3 linked regions of the Homo sapiens genome follow. The protein of the gene in region 1 purifies or fractionates together with the protein of each later gene. This does not show direct contact. Each region holds a gene or a part of one and is shown on either strand. Other genes may lie near its edges.

Region 1 (8,156 bases):
GGGAGGTGAGCAGTGAGCCGACATCCCACCACAGCACGCTAGCCTGGGTGACAGAGCGAGACTCTGTCTCAAAAAAAAAAAAAAAAAGGAATCACAGTATTTTTAAATTTCTACCATTATCATTCTATAAAATATGATTGAGATTACAGTGTGCACTTGATCTTAGCCAAAAGATCCAGAATGACAGCTCACACTTTATATTACAATTTGTATTCTACTTTTCCTGATATTTTGATTAAATTGTGCTATGTTTTCCCTATGACATTTCCCTATTACATTTCTTTGTAAACATCATTTTAAATAAGTGTACAGTGTTACATTGCAGGCATACCATAAGTTTAGCCATTTCCCTTTTGTAAGATACTGACCCTTTTCTAATTTTTTCTACAGTTTACATAAATTGTAAAAAAAATATATTGTGTGAATGTATTTTTAGTAATTCAGATATTCCTTCGGGTAGATTTCCATGAGTTGAATTTTTAGATCCAATAGATGTATTTTTTCTTTTTTAAATTATAAAATATTTTAATGTAGAGATAATTACATGACAAAGATCCCTAAATGCACCAACCGTCTTTTAAGGGATACACACCCTTTTATTTATATATTATGTCTGTAAGATTCATCCATTTTGTTGGTAGTAATTTGTTTGTTTTTTTTTTTTTTTTTTTGTGAGACAGGGTTTCACTCTGTGGCCCAGGCTGGAGTGCAGTGGCATGATCACGGCTCACTGCAGCCTGAACCTCCCACGCTCAAGTGATCCTCCTGCCTCAGCCTCCTGAGTAGCTAAGACTACAGGCACACACCACCCATGCCTGGCTAATTTTTGTATTTTTTGTAGAGAAGGGATTTTGCCATGTTGCCCAGGCTGGTCTCGAACTCCTGGGCTCAAGCGATTTGCCCACCTCAGCCTCCTCAAGTGCTAGGATTACAGGTGTGAGCCATTGTGCCTGGCCAGTAGTTTGGTCTTTTTCGTTGCTGTGCAGATTCAGTTGTATGAATATAGCATAATTTTTGTCCATTCTATTGTTGATAGACATTTGAGTTGTTTTCATTTCTTGTCATTATGAGTAAAGCTCTTAACATTGGTGGACACAAGTATGTATTTCTCTTAGGGATATATCCAGGAATAGAATTGCTGCCAGACAGAAAAATATATATGTATTTGTAGCTTTAGAGGGTATTGCCAGTCTTTTTTTATTTCTTTCTTTTTTATTTTGAGACAGTCTCACTCTGTCGCCCACGCTGGAATGCAGTGGCGCAATCTCAGTTCACTGCAATCTCTGCCTCCCGGGTTCAAGCGATTCTCCTGCCTCAGTCTCCTGAGTAGCTGGGATTACGGGCATGTGCCATCACGCCTGGCTAATTTTTGAATTTTTTTAGCACAGACGAGGTTTTGCCATGTTGGGCTGGTCTTGAACCCCTGACCTCAGGTGATCCGCCCACCTCAGCCTCCTAAAGTGCTAGGATTACAGGCGTGAGTCACCACGCCCAGCCATTATCTCTCATTTTCTAAAGTGGTAGTACCATTTTATACTCCGAACAGCAATAAATTGTAGTTACATTCTTACTAACTGCTAACTCATTTATTTACTAGCATCTGGACTAACATTTGGTATTGTCAGTCTTTTTAATTTTAGTCATTCTGGTAAGGGTGTAGTGCCCACCAGCCATCTCCAACAGATTTTAACATATATGCTTCAGATCTCTTTTAAGAAATATAAATTTAAATATTCATTAGTGAATCTAGTAAGGGATGTGTGTGCGTGTGTATATATATATATATTGTATATATACACACACATATACAAGAAAATAACATACATATTATATAAAATAACGTATATATACACATACTGTATATATACACACACAAACTATATATATATATGTGTGTGTGTGTGTATTTTGGAGACAGGGTCTCACTCTGTCATCTAGGTTGGAGTAGAGTGGTGTGGTCTTGCCTCACTGTAGCCTCGACCTCCCAGGCCCAAGCAGTCCTCCTACCTCAGCCTCCTGAGTATCTGGAATTATAGGTGTGTGCCACCACACCTGGTTAATGTTTTAATTTTTGTAGAGATGGAAAACTGCTTTGCTGCCCAGGCTGGTCTCGAACTCCTGAGCTCAAGGATTCCTCCCACCTTAGCCTCCCAAAGTGCTGGGATTATAGGCATGAGCCACCGCACCTGGCCAAGGTCTGTATTTTTCTTATTGTACTAAACTTGCAACTTTTCTGTAGATTTAAAAATTTTCAAAATACTGTAAATAGTTTAAAAATATATAAATTTTAGATATAGCTGAAACTAACTACTTACCCTTTCCCAGCCTCCTAAAGTAATTACTATCCTGAATGTAATGTTTATTGTTTTTTTTTTTTTTTTTTGAGACAGCGTCTCACTGTCACTGAGGCTGGAGTGCAGTGTCATGATCTCAGTTCACTGCAACCTCCGTCCCACGGGTTCAAGTGATTCTCCTGCCTCAACCTCCTGAGTAGCTGGAATTACAGGTGTGCGCCACCAGGCCCGGCTAATTTTTTTTTTTTTTTTTTTTTTTGTATTTTTAGTAGAGACGGGGTTTCAGCATGTTGGCCAGGCTGGTCTCGAACTCCTGACCTCAGACTAACCGCCCGCCTCAGCCTCCCAAAGTGCTGGGATTACAGGCGTGAGCCACTGTGCCTGGCCTGGTACAACTAATTTTAAAAGCAGGTTGACACTCTAGTCCAACTGGCAGATGTGCATACCCCATGCCATTGTAATTTTTCCCCCTAGAAAAACTCCTATTCAGTCGTACAGGGAAATGAGTATAAAAACATTTGCTGCTGCCATGTTTGTAATTGTGGACAATTGGGAATAATCTTTATACCTCATCAATGAAAAAATAGACCAATTATGGTTCATTCATGTAGAATACTATACAGTAGACTATGAACCAGAGTTACATGAATCAGAATTCGTATTTCTCAAAAGCATAATGTGGGCCGGGCACGGTGGCTCACGCCTGTAATCCTAGCACTTTGGCAGGCTGAGGCAGGTGGATCACTTGAGCCCAGGAATTCAAGACCAGCCTGAGCAACACAGTGAAAACCTGTCTCTATCTTTTTAAAAGGAAGAAAAGCATATTGTGGAACAACAACAGAAAAAAGCAACTTGCAGAATTATAAAGTATGATATCATTTGTATAAATTATAAGAAAATGTTAAATAGCGCTATTATATATAATTTGTAGAGTTATACATATATACCTGAGAACAATAAACATTACATTCATGCAGCCAGGCACAGTGGCTCATTCCTGTAGTCTCAGCACTTTGGGAGACCAAGGCGGGCAGATCACTTGAGCTCAGGAGTTCGAGACCAGCCTGGCCAACATGGTGAAACCACATCTCCATTAAAAATACAAAAAATTAGCTGGGCATGGTGGCACGCCTGTAGTCGCAGCTACTCAGGAGCTTGAACCCAGGAGGTGGAGGTTTCAGTGAGCCGAGACTATGCCACTGCACTCCAGCCTGGGTGACAGAGAGAAAAAAACAGTTGTACCAATTTATACTCCCACTAGCATTAGATAAAAGTTCAAATTATGCCAGGCATGGTGTCTCACATCTGTAACCCCAGCATTTTTGGACTCTGTCTCAAAAAAAAAATCCACATCTTTTACAACACATGATTGTTAGATTTTTTAGTTTTTGCCTATCGGATGATATATTCTTATTTACATTTTCATTTTCCTTATTACTAAGGGGGTTGAGCAGCTTCTCACATTAGGCCTTCCTCCTCTGCCCACATGACATGACTATTCATATTCTTTCCCTGTTTCCTACTGGGATATCATTTTCTTTTTTTCGTTTCTTTTCTTTTTTTGAGACGGAGTTTTCCTCTTGTTGCCCAGGCTGGAGTGCAATGGCATGATCTCGGATGACTGAAACCTCTGCCTCCCAGGTTCAAGCGATTCTCCTGCCTCAGCCTCCCGAGTAGCTGGAATTACAGGCCTGCGCCATCACAGCTGGCTAATTTTTGTATTTTCAGTAAAGATGGGGTTTCACCATGTTGGCCAGGCTAGTCTCAAACTCCTGGCCTCAAGTGATCCACCCACCTCGGCCTCCCAAAGTGCTGGGATTACAGGCATGAGCCATCGTGCCCAGGCACTGCCATGGTGTTTTTTGTTTGTTTGTTTGTTTGTTTTTAAAGATAAACCTCTGGGGTTTCTGGAAAGTAAAGCCCCATGCTCCAAACAGCTCTGCTATACCTGTGTGCAAAATATTTTCATCTCTCTCTCTCTCTCCCCAAAGTGCATGCAAACACATATGGAACTGACATAGGCATCCACTGTCGCACTTCAAATTAAACAGACGCACACGACAGATATTCTCACAGAAAAGCAGTCAGCCAAGCCCAGAACCCATAGATCTAGGTCCACACTCACGCCTCTGCATGCTCCCCAGAAAGACGGATGCATCGCCCGCAGGTAGAGACGGGCTCACCAATCCCACTCAAAACCCGCTGCCGGCTTACAGCTCGCAAGCCGCCCACAGTGCCAGCCCCATGCCAAGCATCACTAGGGGCTCTAGAATAGGCAGGGGCCTTGTTCTCACTTCCTTTGTGTTGCTTTTATTTTAGTTGTTTTGTTTGTTGTTTTTCTTAGAGTTATCACCTGCCCCTCTGTCTCCCTACCCAGCCCCCAAGCCTCCCCTCCAAGCCTCCACTGCGCATGTGCCGTGCATCCCTGCCCCTTCTGGGTACCCGTAGGCGCTCCCGGGCGCTGGCGGCGGCGGAGGAGAGGGAGCAGCGTCACGGGCGCCCGGCCCGTTAAAACGCTGCTGGCTGGAGCCACCTCCCTCCCTGCAGCCCGCAACGGGAATGGAGTAAAGGGAGACCCGTCGACCTGGCCACGGGGATCAGCGATGGAATTAAAGCAATCTTTGTCCACCCATCTGGAAGCCGAGAAGCCTCTGAGGCGCTATGGGGCGGTGGAGGAGACGGCTTGGAAAACGGAGAGACTGGGGAGAAGTGAGTACTGGGGCGGGGGGCGGGGGGCCGGGGACAGCTGGGGATCCATGCGCCTGCGCGGGTGGTCGCGGGAGCGCGAGGAACGCCAGCAGTGGACCCAGGGAAGCGCCCCCGCAGCGGGGCTGGCAGCTCAGGGGGATACGCAGCTCTGCGCAGCGACGCGCTCTCCCCGCGAACAAAAGGGGGGGACCCTCCGGGCTGAGCCTCACTGGGAGGGTTGGGAGATGGCCAGGCAGCTAAGGCAGGAGCCTGGGCTCGACTTAGGAGTCCCGGATCCGTCAGCTCGCAGCTGGTCCTGTGAAGTCGGGTCTCTCCCACAGCCCAGGGAGGAGGATCCTCTCTCCGCCTGGGATGCGCCAGGGCGCTGGAGACGCGGGACCGTCCTGGAAAGCGCCCACGTCCCTGGAGAGGGGGGAGTGTCTGCTGGTTTTCCGCTTGCTTTCCTACCCCCTGCGTGAGGTTTCGGAGCGCACCTGAAATTCCCAGCTTTTCCTCCCTCGCCTTCCTTGGGTCGGGGTGGGAGGCTTGGGGCGGCAAAAGGGTCAAAAGGCACACACCGTTCTCTTTTCTCTCTTGACTCAGTTAAAGTCTGCTTGGGCACAACTCTAGAAGGCAGTTTCGAAATAGACCGGCTGTATTTATTTACTGGTTCTCTCTGCGGTGTTTGGATGTCAACATTTCTAAGTAAACGAAGGATTTTGTTTTTCATTAATAGGATACAATAGTTGAAACTCCTGCCCTCAAAGTGTAGAGGCAGCGTCAGGGGCTCCAGGGTCACTGGAGGTCCCTGCAAACCCGGGGGCTCCCCAAAGCCGCTGCTCTCACATGGCTTGCCCACCAGGCTGGGAAGGAGAGGTCCTTCTCAGGGACCCGGCAGCTTCCTGCCTCGGCTCTGGGTCACTGCTCCGCGCTCTGCCCCAGCACGGATCTCTGAGCGATGTAGGGCTAAAGTATTGTGAATGTGATCTTATTCTGTCCTCACCTGGTGGAAAATTGTGTGTGCGCGCTTTCTTTCTCTATACCTGTAATTATGGATTTAGAAAATCTTCCTAGAAGGGCTCAACTGTGTTCTGATTCTGACGGGTTGAAGTTGAAATCACAATCCAATGTCTTAGTGGTTCATGGGCTAGGATGGATGTCATAGCACTGCCAACCTCTTTCCTTTTCTTTTTTTTTCTCCCTTTTTAACCTTGGTCTTTCTTTCTAGTTCATCCTTTCAAGACCCAATGACTTGGTGCTTTGGCATAATATCAGGGCGTCAGGGCTGAGGGTCTCTGTTTCTTTCTTTAATTTTTAAGTGCACATAGTGGGTGTCCATATTTATGGAATACATGAGATATTTTGATACAGGCATACAATGTGTAATAATCACATCAGGGTAAACGGGGTATCCAAAACCTCAAGCATTTATCCTTTTTTTTGTGTTACAAACAATCCAATTACACTCCTTTTTTAAAAAAGCCCAGCTGTGTGACTAATTATACTCTTTTAGTTTAGCTTTTTTTTTTTTTTTTTTGAGACGGAGTTTCGCTCTTGTTGCCCAGACTGGAGTGCAATGACACAATCTCGGCTCACTGCGACCTCCACTTCCTGGGTTCAAGCGATTCTCCTGCCTCAGCCTCCAGAGTAGCTGAGATTACAGGTGCTCGCCACCATGCCTGGCTAACTTTTGTATTTTTAGTAGAGATGGGGTTTCACCATGTTGGGCAGGCTGGTCCCGAACTCCTGACCTCAGGTGATCGGCCTGCCCTGGCCTCCCAAAGTGCCGGGATTACAGGTGTGAGGCACCCCACCTGCCCTCTTTTAGTTATTTTTAAATGTACAATAAATTGTTGACTGTAGTCATCGTGTTGTGCTATCAGATACTAGATCTTATTCATTCTATCTACCTATATTTTTGTACCCATTAACCATCTCTGTGTCCCCCCATCCCAATACCCTCCCCAGCCTCTGGTAACCATCATTCTACTCTGTATCTCCATGAGGGTCTCTTGTTTCTTACAAGCTCAAAATAATCTCAACAATGGCTGCCTTTTATTGCTAGATGACCATGTGCTGAGAACTCTAAATGCATCATTTCATTTAGTCCCCTCAACAACCTCCTGCAGTACTAAGATTTATAAATTTAAATCTTGCCTAGATTTAAAAAAACATTTTAAAATAAAAATTTTAAAACAAAACATTTTAAAATAAAAAATTTAAATATAAATTTAAAATCTTGCATAGATTTAAAAAAACAAAACAAAACTGGGACTTGTTAGGTGATCTGACAGTTAAGTGGCAGAACCAGGATTTGAACCCCGGTCTGTTGGACCCCAGAGCCTGCTTTTAACATGAAGGTTTATTGCTTTCATGGTTTCAGAAAACTTCCTAAGTCTATTGAGATAGTCACAGAACATGCTCAGTGATTTTATAATTATGTGGCAGCCCTGTTGCTCTCTGAAGCTCACAGAGGCCTTAAAAAAATGCTGGGTCCACGCAGAATGGAAGCTGTTCACAAGAGTGCTGCTTTGAATCCTCACTCTGTGCCTTGCTGGCTATGTGACTTTAGGAGTATTGCTAAGCCTCACTCTGCCTTCATTTTCTGAAAATAGAGATTATGTCTTTATTGTGTATACTAAATAAGATGATACATATAGTACTCAAGGTTAAGTGCTCAATACGTATTGTTCACTTCCATTCGGTTACTGCACAACATTTATAGACAGAACCTGCTTTTACTCTTTGCAAGGAATTATGTAAATATTGGTCAATTCTTCAATAATGCCCTTGTAGCTTTTTATATCTTAACATTTTATGAGAAAAAATTTGAAACATGCAGGAAAATTGCAGCAAGCACCCAATTTACAGCAGTTTCAATCCTGAAATTTTTGTACTTCTGGGTCCTATGCTGCACACTGTTAAAAGTCAGGTATAAGGCCAGGCGCATTGGCTCACGCCTGCAATCCCAGCACTTTGGGAGGCCGAGGCGGGCGGATCACAAGGTCAGGAGATCAAGACCATCCTGGCTAACACGGTGAAACCCCATCTATACTAGAAATACAAAAAATTAGCTGGGTGTGGCAGTGGGCGCCTATTGTCCCAGCTGCCGGGGAGGCTGACACAGGAGAATGGCGTGAACCTGGGAGGCGGAGCTTGCAGTGAGCCGAGATT
Region 2 (7,543 bases), on another chromosome or scaffold:
AACCAGCTGCCACATCTACTGGGACAAGAGGCCTGCAGTTCCATAAAATTCAGCAACAAAAAGAGGGGTCTTTCAACTTGTGACGTTGACAGTCTTTAGATAAGTGGTTCTCAGTGTTTTTTCCCACCCAGTCATAGGGGGTTATGTGGCCTATGCAGGGATTCTCAGTGGGGAAGGGGACTGAAGTCCTGTGGATGGGAAAACTGTACTTGGATGAGGCCTGCTAGGTGATCTCATCACCTGCCCCTCTTGGGGGGATTACTGCTTTAAATACAGTATGGAAAAATCCATGATGACTCAAGTTAGCAAGCTTGGAAGTATAAAAATGATCTTCAGGAATTCTGAATTAAAGAAAACATCACTGTAGTTGGAAAATACTTCACATTACTGTTGGCCGAGAGCTCACGGTGGATTAAATTGGTAAAACTCTTGAATTACTGTGCTTTTGCAACTCAGAAAGTGGTTCAGAAACTGGACATTTTTCAGGGTACCGAAGCATTTATTTTCTGGATGTTTACACTATGAAAATAACAATAGAGGCCAGGCACTGTGGCTCGCGCCTGTAATCCCAGCACTTTGGGAGGCCAAGGTGGGCGGATCACGAGGTCAGGAGATCCAGACCATCCTGTGAATGGTGAAACCCCGTCTCTACTAAAAATACAAAAAATTAGCCGGGCGTGGTGGCAGGTGCCTGTAGTCCCAGCTACTCGGGAGACTGAGTCGGGAGAATGGCGTGAACCCAGGAGGCAGAGCTTGCAGTAAGCCAAGATCGCGCCACCGCACTCCAGTCTGGGCAGCAGAGTGAGATTCCGTCTCAAAAAAAAAAAAAAAAAATTAAAATAACAATAGAAACTAACTGGTCAAATTGGAGTCAGTTTTCCCTTTCCATGAGCCCAGTCTAGGACGCTTTCAGGGTTTTTGAATCCTGAAGTCTGACTTTAGGTTAAGTTGAGTTACTTGTCCTCAGGTTTGCCTCTCAGCCCAATTAAGACAGTCACCCCTACCCATCCAATTAAAAAGAAACATGATAAAACCACAAATGTGAGCCTGTACTCCTAGCACTGTAATCCCAGCACTTTGGGAGGCCAAGGAAGGTGGATCACTTGAGGTCAGGAGTTCAAGACCAGCCTGGCCAACATGGTGAAACCCCATCTCTACTAAAAATAACAAAAATTAGCTGGGCATGGCGGTGTGTGCCTGTAATCCCAGCTATTTGAGAGGCTGAGGCAGGAGAATCACTTGAACCAGAGAGGCAGAGGTTGCAGTAAGCCTGGGTGACAGAGTGAGACTCTGTCTCCAAAAAAAAAGAAAAAACAAAAAAAACCACGTATGCGTATATATGCCATACAAACTATATGAACCATTCGAGTTTTTTCCCATGATGATTACTACAATGGTTTTTAAAAAATTATATTTCCAAATAAGAGTACTCCAACTACTCGGTTTTGGTGCCCAGCTTGGTTGCACTCAGCGGCTACAAGGTAAACCCACCCCTTGTATGGCACTCACCCGTAAACGGCATATCTCAGAGGCCCACCGACATCCAGACTTCTAGAGTTTTCTTTTTTCCGCTTCTTCTCAATCATCTGGGCCAGGAAGTTCCCAAGTGCTGACAAAATGCCACTGTGGAGAGGGAGGTCATCAGAAAACAGCAGTGACCAGCAGGAGGGTGTCCCTTTCCCATAGGTGAATTAGCAGGGCCGTTCTGAGGCCATGCAGCAGATGGGCGGGGGGTAGGAATTCTTGTTAAAGCGGCTGCAATGTATAGTTCTTGTATCAAAAGGTGGAGACGGTGGACTTAAACACACAGGTAAGGACAAGTGGCTTTCCAGTATCTATGTCAACATCCTGGCTGTGATGTTATACTATAATTTGGCAGTTTGGGAGTTGGGAAGCTGTGTGGTTATGAACGGGCAACAGGACAGCCCTATCATGACGCTGTTCTGCATTTTGACTGTGGTAGTGAACACAAGAATGTACAGATGTGATAAAACTGTACAGAACAGATACAGCTACAAGAAAAATGGAGAAATCCGAATAGGATCTGTGGACTGTGTCCACGCAATGCCCTGGTCGATACTGCACTACGTTTCACAGAATGTAACCAATGGGGGACACTGGGAAGGTGTGCAAGGAATCTCTCCATGTTAGTCTTGTAACTGTTTGTGAATCTACAATTATCACAATAAAAATTTCCATAAAAAGGTGGAACAGGCCCAGTGGCTCCCTCCAGGCCTTGGTTTGTATTTGCCTTCTGAGAAGCTCTCTGGACTATAAAATCCAAAATTCCTAGCACGGACCTAGACACCTTCTCGATCAGATCCCTGGCGATTCCCTTCACATCTCCTGCCTCTTGCTCAGGGTTCACTTTCTCCACACACAGATCTTCCCTCCCTCGGGACTGAGTCCAAGCTGCACCTCTCTCCGCCTTTCTTTAACGCCGGCCTTCCCTTCAAAACCTAACAGAGACCTTTGCCCTGCTGTTCCCTGTGCCAGGAGAGCCTCTGCTCCACTTCTTTACACAGCCTGTTCAATGTCACCTTCTCAAAACACCTTCCCTGGCCGTGTCTCCACCCGCGCCGTGCGGACCCGCGCCCCGCAGACTCGCTCCCTTGGCCCTGTCTCCACACGCTCCATGTGGACCCGCTCCCCTGGCCCTGTCTTCACCCGCACCACGCAGACCCGCTCCCTTGGCCCTGTCTTTACCCGTGCCCCGCAGACCCGCTCCCCTCGCCCTGTCTTCACCCGCGCCCCGCAGACCCGCTCCCTTGGCCCTGTCTTCACCCGCGCCCCGCAGACCCGCTCCCTTGGCCCTGTCTCCACCCGCGCCATGAGGACCCGCTCCCCTGGCCCTGTCTTTACCCGCGCCCCCAAGACCCGCTCCCCTGGCGCTGTCTTCACCCGCGCCCCGCAGACTCGCTCCCTTGGCCCTGTCTCCACACGCTCCATGAGGACCCGCTCCCCTGGCCCTGTCTTCACCCGTGCCCCGCAGACCCGCTCCCCTGGCCCTGTCTTCACCCGCGCCCCCAAGACCCGCTCCCCTCGCCCTGTCTTCACCCGTGCCCCGCAGACCCGCTCCCCTGGCCCTGTCTTCACCCGCGCCCCCAAGACCCGCTCCCCTCGCCCTGTCTTCACCCGTGCCCCGCAGACCCGCTCCCCTGGCCCTGTCTTCACCCGCGCCCCCAAGACCCGCTCCCCTCGCCCTGTCTTCACCCGTGCCCCGCAGACCCGCTCCCCTGGCCCTGTCTTCACCCGCACCACGCAGACCCGCTCCCTTGGCCCTGTCTTTACCCGTGCCCCGCAGACCCGCTCCCCTCGCCCTGTCTTCACCCGCGCCCCGCAGACCCGCTCCCTTGGCCCTGTCTTCACCCGCGCCCCGCAGACCCGCTCCCTTGGCCCTGTCTCCACCCGCGCCATGAGGACCCGCTCCCCTGGCCCTGTCTTTACCCGCGCCCCCAAGACCCGCTCCCCTGGCGCTGTCTTCACCCGCGCCCCGCAGACTCGCTCCCTTGGCCCTGTCTCCACACGCTCCATGAGGACCCGCTCCCCTGGCCCTGTCTTCACCCGTGCCCCGCAGACCCGCTCCCCTGGCCCTGTCTTCACCCGCGCCCCGCAGACCCGCTCCCCTCGCCCTGTCTTCACCCGCGCCCCCAAGACCCGCTCCCCTCGCCCTGTCTTCACCCGCGCCCCGCAGACCCGCTCCCCTCGCCCTGTCTTCACCCGCGCCCCGCAGACCCGCTCCCCTCGCCCTGTCTTCACCCGCGCCTGCGGACCCGCTCCCCTTGCCGTGGCTTCCCCGGGCGCGCGGGGCCCCTGTTGGGTCCTTGGGTGGAACCTCAGCGCCGACCCCCGGGTCTGGGCGGGCCCTCCACGCGCTGGGAGGGCGGGATCCGCAAGGCGCCTCACAATCGCTGACTGCGGACGCGGGTGTCGCCGCGGGAAGTTCAGCGCCGGGTCGGAGGGCGCCCGCTCCGGGGGTTCTGACCCGGGCGCGCCCCCAGCCTGGTCCCGGCCCGGCGCTCCCGTCCAGGCCCCGCGCCGCTGCGGCCGACCTGGGGCCGGGGCGGCGTCCGATTCCCGCGCCCCCGCTCACCTGGTGGCCGCCTTGGTGAGCACCGGGTAGAGCCGCAGGAAGAGCAGGTACTGGGCGAGCGCCCGCCGCGGCAGCGCCCCGAGCCCGGCTTCGGCCCGCAGCCTGGACGCGGCCGGCGCCATCGCCTCCCCAGCGCCGTGCCGCCGGGGGCACCGACCCCACCTCAGGCTGGCCGGGCGCGGAGCCCGAGGCGCCGAGAGCGGAGTGGGGACCGCCTGACATTTCCGGCCCCACCGCGGCCCGCAGCGCCGCCCGGTCCCAACCCCACGGTGCGCCGCGCGCGCCTACCACACACTTTTCCCCGGTCCCTGCCGGCCACCTCCCCCGCCGGGCGCCGGCGCCAATTGGAGCGCCTCGGGGGGCGGGGGAGGGGCGGAGCGCGCCTCTTGATGGACGGCGGCATTTCCGGCTCTCGCGAGTCTGGGTGGGAGCGCGCCAAATTTCTCCCCTGAAGCAGAGGTGGTAGCCAACGGCTCCATGTCTCTGAGGAGCGGCGGGCGGCGGCGCGCGGACCCAGGCGCGGATGGCGAGGCCAGCAGGTGAGGGGCGCCCTCCTGAGGCTCTCGGGCCGGCCCTCCGGAGGGTGCCATGGGGCCGTCCTCGGCTGGCGCCGCCGAGGCGGGAGGGAGGCCCGGTTCCCGCAGCCGCCCGCACTCGCCGCGCCTGACTGGGGTAGGGCGGCGCGCCCCGACCGCCGACGGAGGGGCTCGGGGCGGGCGGAGGCGCTACGGGCGCGGCTTCTTTGCGGGGAAACGAGGCGGGCCGCGCGGCCTTTCCCTGCTCGGCTCTTTCTGAGGTTTTTCGGGCCTCGCCTTCCGCGCAGCTGCGTTTGGGACCTGCCGCGCGGCGGGGGCGATGAGAGCGGCGGGACCCGGGCCAGGCCCTGCGGGGTGGACGCGCGGCTGGGGAGGGTGCGGGGAGGGGCGGGGCCGGGGACCCTGCCTGGGGGCCTAGCGCTGGGGGAGGCCGAGGCGGGCGGATCGCTGGAGCCCAGGATCCTGTTCTAGATCAGCCTGGGCTACAGAGAGAGACCTCGTCTCCTCTGTTTTATTTTTTTGGGCAGGGAGTCCCGCTCTGTCGCCCAGGCTGGAGTGCAGTGGCGCGATCTCGGCTCACTGCAACCTCTGCTTCCCGGGTTCAAGCGATCCCGCTGCCTCAGCCTCCCGAGTAGCTGGAATTACAGGCGCCCGCCACCAGGCCCGGCTAGTTTTTGTATTTTTAGTAGAGACCGGGTTTCACCATGTTGGCCAGGCTGGTCTCGAACTCCTGACCTCAGGTGATCCGCCCGCCTCGGCCTTCCAAAGTGCTGGGATTACAGACGTGAGACTCCGCGCCCGGCCCTTCTCTTGTAAAAACAAGAAAAATTAGACAGGCTGGTGGTGCGCGCCCGAGGTCCCAGCTATTAATACTCCCGAATCCGAGCCGGAGGTTCACCTGAGCCCGGCAGGTCAAGGCTGCTGTGAGCCGGGATCGCGCCACCGCACTCCAGCCTGGGCGACGGAGCCAGACCCAGTCTCAAAAAAAATAGAGCAAGGATAAGACGCGGCTGCTTGGTGGCCAGAGCAAACGGTAAACATGACCGGAGGACTGGCCTGCCATAAGCAGAAAACGGATGAGGCCCGGCGCGGTGGCTCACACCTGTAATCCCAGCACTTTGGGAGGCCGAGGCAGGAGGATCACCTGAGGTCAGGAGTTCGAGACCAGCCTGACCAACATGGAGAAATCCCGTCTCCACTAAAAAAATACAAAATTAGCGGGGCGTGGTGGCGCATGCCTGTAATCCCAGCTACGCAGGAGGCTGAGGCAGGAGAATCACTTGAACGCGGCAGGCGGAGGTTGCGGTGAACCGAGATCGCGCCATTGCACTCCAGGCTGGGCAACAAAGAATGAAACTCTGTCTCAAAAAAAAAAAAATAGAAAAAACGTGTGAGAACGTGAAGCTTTTTACAGACACTTAGCTGAACAAAATTCTTCCCAGAGGAGAAACCAAGTGGTAAGGATCCCTAACTGCTGTTGTGCTCATCGCTGTCTGTCCATATCAGGCAAGCCCTAGAGAGGCAGGTACCCTTAGGGTCTACATGGTGTGTTGGAACTTGGAGCTTAGAGACGGTTACTGACTGCCCTGCTTCAGGACACAGGACTGCACTCACGTGCTCCACTCCACTGCCCTGCCCCAAGCTCAGTGATGGCCTCCAGGCAGGGGGAAGGCTGCTGCTGGGATAAGTACAAGTGATGGCTTTTACCTTACATGCTTTATGTGGGTTACCTCATCTCATCCTTAAAACAGTCCTGGGAGGTGAGTGTGCCCCAGGAGGCAGTGGGTGCTGTTTGCCTGCGTTTCTTCTTGTGTGAAATGGGGACACCAGTGGCCTCCCTCGTAGGGGTTGTCATGAAAACTGAATGAGAGCATATGTGGAGTACTGGGACGGTGTGATACAGTAACCAGTCAATGGTAGCTCTCTGTGAATGAGAGCCTGTGTGGAGTACTGGGACAGTGTGATACAGTAACCAGTCAATGGTAGCTCTCTGTGAATGAGAGCCTGTGTGTAGTACTGGGACGGTGTGATACAGTAACCAGTCAATGGTAGCTCTGTGAATGAAAGCCTGTGTGGAGTACTGGGACGGTGTGATATAGTAACCAGTCAATGGTAGCTCTCTGTGAATGAGAGCCTGTGTGGAGTACTGGGACGGTGTGATATAGTAACCAGTCAATGGTAGCTCTGTGAATGAGAGCCTGTGGAGTACTGGGATTGTGTGATACAGTAACCAGTCAATGGTAGCTCTCTGTGAATGAGAGCCTGTGTGGAGTACTGGGACGGTGTGATACAGTAACCAGTCAATGGTAGCTCTCTGTGAATGAGAGCCTGTGTGGAGTACTGGGACGGTGTGATATAGTAACCAGTCAATGGTAGCTCTCTGTGAATGAGAGCCTGTGTGGAGTACTGGGACGGTGTGATATAGTAACCAGTCAATGGTAGCTCTGTGAATGAGAGCCTGTGTGGAGTACTGGGACGGTGTGATACAGTAACCAGTCAATGGTAGCTCTCTGTGAATGAGAGCCTGTGTGGAGTACTGGGACGGTGTGATACAGTAACCAGTCAATGGTAGCTCTCTGTGAATGAGAGCCTGTGTGGAGTACTGGGACGGTGTGATACAGTAACCAGTCAATGGTAGCTCTCTGTGAATGAGAGCCTGTGTGGAGTACTGGGACGGTGTGATACAGTAACCAGTCAATGGTAGCTCTCTGTGAATGAGAGCCTGTGTGGAGTACTGGGACGGTGTGATATAGTAACCAGTCAATGGTAGCTCTGTGAATGAGAGCCTGTGTGGAGTACTGGGACGGTGTGATATAGTAACCAGTCAATGGTAGCTCTGTGAATGAGAGCCTGTGTGGAGTACTGGGACGGTGTGATACAGTAACCAGTCAATGGTAGCTCTCTGTGAATGAGA
Region 3 (7,000 bases), on another chromosome or scaffold:
TTATACAAATTGCTAGTTAAAGAACAGGCACCCGCCATTCTAAGCAATAGTTTCTCTTCACTGAATGTCTGAGTTTGGCTACGAGTTACTGCTAAGGCTACAGCGTATGACTACAAAAACTGTTTTTGCCAATTTCTAACTCATTGCCTTGTAAAAGTACTCTGAAATTTTCTTCAACATTAAAGTTTGTGGAAAATCAAGGATTGTTTCTCATAGTACATGTGACACACAGACATACTGTCTTCTTTTAGTTTCAGCCGACTTTTCAGCTCCTCAAGTAACACGACTAAGAAGCCTGAACCACCTGTTAATCTGAAGTACAATGCACCCACGTCTCATGTTACTCCGTCCGTCAAGAAAAGAAGCAGCACCTTATCTCAGCTCCCTGGGGATAAGTCCAAAGCCTTTGATTTCCTTAGTGAAGAGTAAGTCTTTTCCAAATTAATCATTATATTCTAAATTAAGTTAGTGGTTCAGAATATTCTTGGCCTCTTATCAGCTCTAAGGATTCAGGTAAATCTATAAAAAAATCATTTCTGGGCCAGGCACGGTGGCTCACACCTGTAATCCCAGCACTTTGGGAGACCGAGGTGGGCGGATCACAAGGTCAGGAGTTCGAGACCAGTCTGGCCAATATGGTGAAACCCCATCTCTACTAAAAATACAAAAATTAGCTGGGCGTGGTGGTGTGTGGCTGTAATCACAGCTACTTGGGAGGCTGAGGCAGAAGAATCGCTTGAACCCAGGAGGCGGGGTTGCAGTGAGCCGAGATCATGCCATTGCTCTAGCCTGGGTGACAGAGTGAGATTCCATCTTTAAAAAAAAAAAAAAAAAAAAAAAAAAAAATCATTTCTGTAACTTGGCTGTCTTTAAGTAAATTACTTGTAGTCAAAAGTTTTTATGAAAATTGCTTTTCAGTTTTTATAAAAGAGAAGGATTTTTTTTTAAATGCCTCATTTTTGCTGGTATGACAACATTGATAAATACCTATTAATAGAAATGTGAATGGCCTTTAGAGGTAAATGAGCCTTTATCCTAAATGTTTGAACATTTCTGTTGGTGTCAGAGGACTTGGTTTTCCATCCTGACTTTACTACTCATTAGGTACAAACACTTGGGCAAATTAACCTTTCAGAGCCCCCAGTTTCTCTGTCTGTAAAATTAATCTGATAACCTATCTCAAAGGTGATTGGACCCAATTATACAGTTATCTGTAAAGTATCTGACATATAGGTAGATATGTTAACTGTGGTATATATACATAGCAACTCATCTTATGAAAATTTAAATGGCCAAAATAATGGCAAATTATTTTCAAAATCATTTTAATAATATTTTACCTTATAACTCCAAAGTTTACCAAATCAGTTTGCATTTTTATTTTCTGAAACAAGTTAATGGGATCTAAAATCTAACCTATATCAATCTTCCTAAGCAGATATTGATTTACTCAAGTTTTAAATCACTTCTAGCACGTTTTCTGGCATTAGGATATTCTCAGTAAATATTTGTTGAATGAACAACAACAACAAAAAAGCCAAACATACTTAAGAATTTTCCCCTTTCATATGGCCAGCATCTGAAACCTGATATAAATTTGGTGGCTGATGATTCAATTTAATGTAACAAAGCTGCTTGGTAACCTGTTAAAGCTTAGGCACTGAATTCACTGCACAAACTTAAAAAGACCAGCTTTAGTATAACACTTTGTTTGTTTGTTTGTTTGTTTTTTGAGATGGAGTTTTGCTCTTGTCCCCCAGGCTGGAGTGCAGTGGCACCATCTTGGCTCACTGCAACCTCCACCGGGTTCAAATGATTCTCCTGCCTCAGCCTCCCAAGTAGCTGGGATTATAGGTCCGCACTACCGTGCCTGGCTAATTTTTGTATTTTTAGCAGAGACGGGGTTTTACCATGTTGGCCAGGCTGCTCTCGAACTCCTGACCTCAGGCTATCTGCCCTCCTCGGCCTCCCAAAGTGTTGGGATTACAGGCATGAGCCACCGTGCCCGGCCTATTATAACACTTTTTAAGGAGCTGTTATAGTTGAAATAAACTAATTTGAAATCATGTAAATTTTTGTTGTTTTTGCTGTTTTAGTGACAGAGGAGAGATAAAACTGGGGATAAACGTAATTAAACGTATTCATGTAATTAGGAAAATCTTTTTTCCTTTTAGAACTGAAGCTAGTTTAGCCTCACGCAGAGAACAAAAGAGAGAGCAGTATCGTCAGGTAAAAGCACATGTTCAGAAGGAAGACGGTAGAGTGCAGGCTTTTGGCTGGAGTCTGCCTCAGAAGTACAAACAGGTAATATGCACATGTGGTAAGAGCATCCAGCAGGAAAGAAGAGGGCAAGTTGAGTGTGCGTGGGCATGAAGGATTCACTGTACGCATCCCAGCCCTGCTCATCTCAGCCGCATGGACTGGGCACACATTTAAGCATGGAGGGTGGTGGTTTTCAGGCTGTTTTCTAGAGCTGTAGAACTCAAATGAAATGCTCTGAGTCTGTGAGGGGGGGAGGAGTCAATAAAGGGTGGCTAAGTGCATGGAGTTTGAGGTACCCGCTCTGCTGTAACCAGAGCAATTCTGGTTTAATATTTGAAGATTTCATTTTTTAAAAAACCAGCATCATTGTTGAAAAAATTATTGGCATGGAACTTTTCAAACTGTTCATTTAAAATTAAGTTCAGGTCTTCAGGAATTTTATCTGTCTACTCCATAATTCCTACCCCAAAAGACTCACATGTTCATGTACAAACACATATGCATGTGCACGTGTGCACATATGTGTGAATTAGAGCCTCTTTTTGAGCTCCCATTATATCCTGTTTATTGAATTGCTCAACTTGATTTTTCTGTTTTTCAAATAAGAATGGCAAAATTGGCTGATGCCTGTCATTGGCTCATGGTGCCTGTTATTGACTCATGCCTATAATCCTAACACTTTGGGAGGCCAAGGTGGAGGATGGCTTGAGCTCAGGGAGTTTGAGACCAGCCTAGGCAACATAGCATGACCTCATCTCTACAAAAAATTTAAAAAATTAGCTGGGTGTGGTGGCCTGTGCCTGTAGTCCCAGCTACCTTGGAGGCTGAGGTGGGAGGGGACCGCTTAAGCCTGACAGATTGAGGCTGCAGTGAGCCATGATCAAGCCACTGCACTCTAGCCTGGGCAGTAGAGCGACCCTGTCTCAAAAAAACAAAAAAACAAAAAACCTGAACTTGATTTCAAGGAGTAAATAACAGCAGTGCTTGCTCATGTCTCAGTGGATCTGTAATAAGTTCACTTTTGATGAGGCTTACTAATGTGCCTTTTTCACTCCTCCTTCCACCATTATTAGGTAACCAATGGTCAAGGTGAAAATAAGATGAAAAATTTACCTGTGCCTGTCTATCTCAGACCTCTGGATGAAAAAGATACATCAATGAAGGTAAGTTCATTGTGAATTAAAAGGAGATGTTTTCTAAACTCTGGGTAGTTTTTTTTCTAAAACCAAAAAAGTATAAGTATTACTTCTATGGTGAGGTTATTGTTCATTTTATAATATTAGGTTATAAGACCTGTATTTACAACCATTAGTTATTTTAAGAAAACATGAAAATGCTAAACATTTCTAGACTTAATATTGTTTTCTTTTTCACCTGAGAAGCTGTGGTGTGCTGTTGGAGTCAATTTATCTGGTGGGAAGACCAGAGATGGTGGTTCTGTTGTTGGAGCAAGTGTATTTTACAAGGATGTTGCTGGTTTGGATACAGAAGGCAGTAAACAGCGAAGTGCCTCTCAGAGTAGTTTAGATAAGTTAGATCAGGAACTTAAGGTAAGTGTGTGTACTAACATTTGACCTGGTTTATGAGACTATGAGTTTAACTCTTTCATCCAAAATTTGCCTCTGGGTCCAGCTTCTAATTGGGATTACTATGCCCTGGCTTACTGTCCCTCAGCACCCTTTTAAAATCAATTTTAAAATATTGAGGTATAATTTACATGCAATAAAGTGTGCACTCGAAATGGGTATAGGTCAGAGTTTTGACACATGTGTACACGTATGTAATCACTACAGTGATCAAGCTAATGGAACATTTTATCATTGTTCTGCTTTACCTGTTAGTTTTGTGTTGCTGTTTAGAGACAGAGTCTCACTCTATCACATAGGCTGGAGTGCAGTGGCATGATCATGGCTCACTGCAGTGTTAACCTCCTGGACTCAAGTGATCTGTCCACTTCAGCCACCCAAGTAGCTGGGACTACACACCCACACCACCACACCTGGCTAATTTTATTTTTTGTAGAGACGAGGGTTTCACTGTGTTGACCAGGCTAGTCTCACACTTCTGGCCTCAAGCAGTCCTCCCACCTCAGCCTCCCAAAGTGCTGGGATTACAGACGTGAGCCACTGTGCCAGCCTAACTGCTAGTTTTTCATCTACTAATTAATATTGATAGGTGGTTGTATTAGTCTATATTCACACTGCTGATAAACACATACCCGAGACTGGGAAGGAAAAAAGAGGTTTAATTGGGCTTACATAGGTAACCTCTGGGGAGGCCTCAGAATCATGACAGGAGATGAAAGGCACTTCTTACATGGTGGCAGCAAGAGAAAATGAGGAAGAAGCAAAAGTGTAAACCCCTAATAAACCCATCAGATCTCGTGAGACTTATTCACTATCACGAGAATAGCATGGGAAAGACTGGCCCCCATGATTAAATTACCTCCCCCTGGGTCCCTCTCACAACATGTGGGAATTCGGGGAGATACAATTCAAGTTGAGTTTTGGGTAGGGACGCAGCCAAACCACATCAGTGGTTGTATTTTTACCCTTCCAAATAATCTGGAAATAAATTTGAAATAGTATTGCCTTTTACTGTAACAGCACCACCTTATGAATATTTGTACATACATATTGTTTTAAACATTTTTCCTCCTTTGCCTATACAGGAACAGCAGAAGGAGTTAAAAAATCAAGAAGAATTATCCAGTCTAGTTTGGATCTGTACCAGCACTCATTCGGCTACAAAAGTTCTTATTATTGATGCTGTTCAACCTGGCAACATCCTAGACAGTTTCACTGTTTGCAACTCTCATGTTCTGTGCATTGCAAGTGTGCCAGGTAAGAGTGAGTCATGCGTTTCTCTGCCCTCCCCTCCATCCACCTACCTGCTGGGCACTGATGTAGCAGCTGAAGATGCAGTTCTGCACCTTGCTGTCATGAAGCTTATGTTCTAGTTAGGGAAGATTAAAAAACAAACTGGAAACCATTGAATAAAGAAGATATTTTCAGGTAGTGAAAAATACTGTGAAGAAAATAAAACAATGGGAATATGAGAAAATAACTGGGAGCCAGAGGACTGTTTGGATTAATTAATAAGGAAAGGTCTTCTAAAGTTTTGGATTAAACATTATGTGATGTTAAAACATTAGTTTAAAAATTAAAGAAGTGTATGTGATATATCCATATGTTGGAATATTATTCAGCCATAAAAAGGAATGAAGTTCTTTTTTATATTTTATTGTGGAATACTTAATATGAGTTCTACTTTTTTTTTTTTTTTTTTTTTGAGACAGAGTCTTACTCTGTCACCCAGGCTGGAGTGCAATGGCATGATCTCGGCTCACTGCAACCTCCACCTTCCAGGTTCAAGTGATTCTCCTGCCTCAGCCTCCCGAGTAGCTGGAATTACAGGCACCTGCCACCACGCCCGGCTAATTGTTTGCATTTTTACTAGAGACGGGGTTTTACCATGTTGGTCAGGCTAGTCTTTTTTTTTTTTTTTTTTTGAGATGGAGTCTTACTCTGTCACTCACACTGGAGTGCAGTGGCACCGTCTCGGCTTACTGCAACCTCTACCTCCTGGGTTCAAGTGATTCTTTTGCCTTAGCCTCCCAAGTAGCTGGGACTACAGGCACGAGCCACTACACCCGGCTAATTTTTGTATTTTTGGTAGAAATGGGGTGTCACCATATTGGCCAGGTTGGTCTCGAACTCCTAGACCTCGTGATCTGCCCGCCTCGGTCTCCCAAAGTGCTGAGATTACAGGTGTGACCCACCACCCCGGGCAGTCAGATTAGTCTTGAACTCCTGACCTCAGGTGATCCACCCGCTTCGTCCTCCCGAAGTACTGGGATTACAGGCATGAGCCACTGAACCCAGCCTGAGATCTACCCTCTTAACACATTTTTGTTTTTGTTTTTTTGAGACAGGGCCTCACTCTGTTGCCCAGGCTGGATTGCAGTGGTGCAGTCACAACTCATTGTACTCATTGCAGCCATGACCTTCCGGGCTCAAGTGATCCTCCCAGCTCAGCCTCCCAAGTAGCTGGGACCACAGGCGCACACTACCACACCTGGCTAAGTTGTTTGTACTTTTTGTAGGCAGGGTTTCACCATGTTGCCCAGGCTGGTCTGGAACTCCTGGGCTCAAGTGATCTGCCTGCCTTGGCCTCCCGAAGTATTGGGATGCCCAGCCCTCTTAACAAATTTTTAAGAGTACAATACATTATCCTCTAGGTAGAAGTTCTGACACATGTTATAACACAGATGAACCTTGGAAACACTATGCCAAAGGAAATAAGTCGGACACAAAAGGACAAATATTATATGATTCCGCTTATATGAGATATCTAGAATAGGCACATTCATAAAAACATAGAGTTTCTGTGTGAGGTGATGGAAAAGCTTTAGAAATAGGCCGGCCATGGAGGTTCACACTCATAATCCCAGCACTTTCAGAGGCCAAGGTGGGACGATCACTTGAGCCCAGAAGTTTGAGACCAGTCTGGGCAATATAGTGAGACCTCATTCCACAAAAAATCAAAAAATGAGGCGGGAGGATAACTTGAGTCGGGGAGGTCAAGACTGCAGTGAGCTACGATTGCACCACTACACACCCACCTGGGCAATGGGAGTAAGACCCTGTGTTTTAAAAAAAAAAAAAAAAAAAAAAAAAAAAAGACCTGGCATGGTGGCTTACACCTGTAATCCAGACACTTTGGGAGGCTGAGGTGG

Evidence for each region. The genes of interacting proteins can lie anywhere in the genome.
Region 2: the proteins of BMERB1 (region 1) and POLE purify together in Homo sapiens (affinity purification with mass spectrometry; 2 studies listed by BioGRID and IntAct, with this or other methods). This does not show direct contact.
Region 3: the proteins of BMERB1 (region 1) and SPAG9 purify together in Homo sapiens (affinity purification with mass spectrometry; 2 studies listed by BioGRID and IntAct, with this or other methods). This does not show direct contact.

Annotation. Positions count from the first base shown.
Region 1 is NC_000016.10:15,429,757-15,437,912, forward strand, and holds the start of BMERB1 (bMERB domain-containing protein 1), read left to right. Parts: upstream 1-4,831; 5' UTR 4,832-4,897; coding exon 4,898-5,003; intron 5,004-8,156.
Region 2 is NC_000012.12:132,684,343-132,691,885, reverse strand, and holds the start of POLE (DNA polymerase epsilon catalytic subunit A), read left to right. Parts: upstream 1-4,543; 5' UTR 4,544-4,570; coding exon 4,571-4,632; intron 4,633-7,543. Other genes in the region: PXMP2 (peroxisomal membrane protein 2), read right to left, coding at 1,510-1,623, 4,094-4,215. UniProt on the Homo sapiens protein: Catalytic component of the DNA polymerase epsilon complex. Participates in chromosomal DNA replication.
Region 3 is NC_000017.11:50,991,869-50,998,868, reverse strand, and holds part of SPAG9 (C-Jun-amino-terminal kinase-interacting protein 4), read left to right. Parts: intron 1-251; coding exon 252-425; intron 426-2,174; coding exon 2,175-2,304; intron 2,305-3,335; coding exon 3,336-3,425; intron 3,426-3,644; coding exon 3,645-3,812; intron 3,813-4,933; coding exon 4,934-5,105; intron 5,106-7,000. UniProt on the Homo sapiens protein: The JNK-interacting protein (JIP) group of scaffold proteins selectively mediates JNK signaling by aggregating specific components of the MAPK cascade to form a functional JNK signaling module.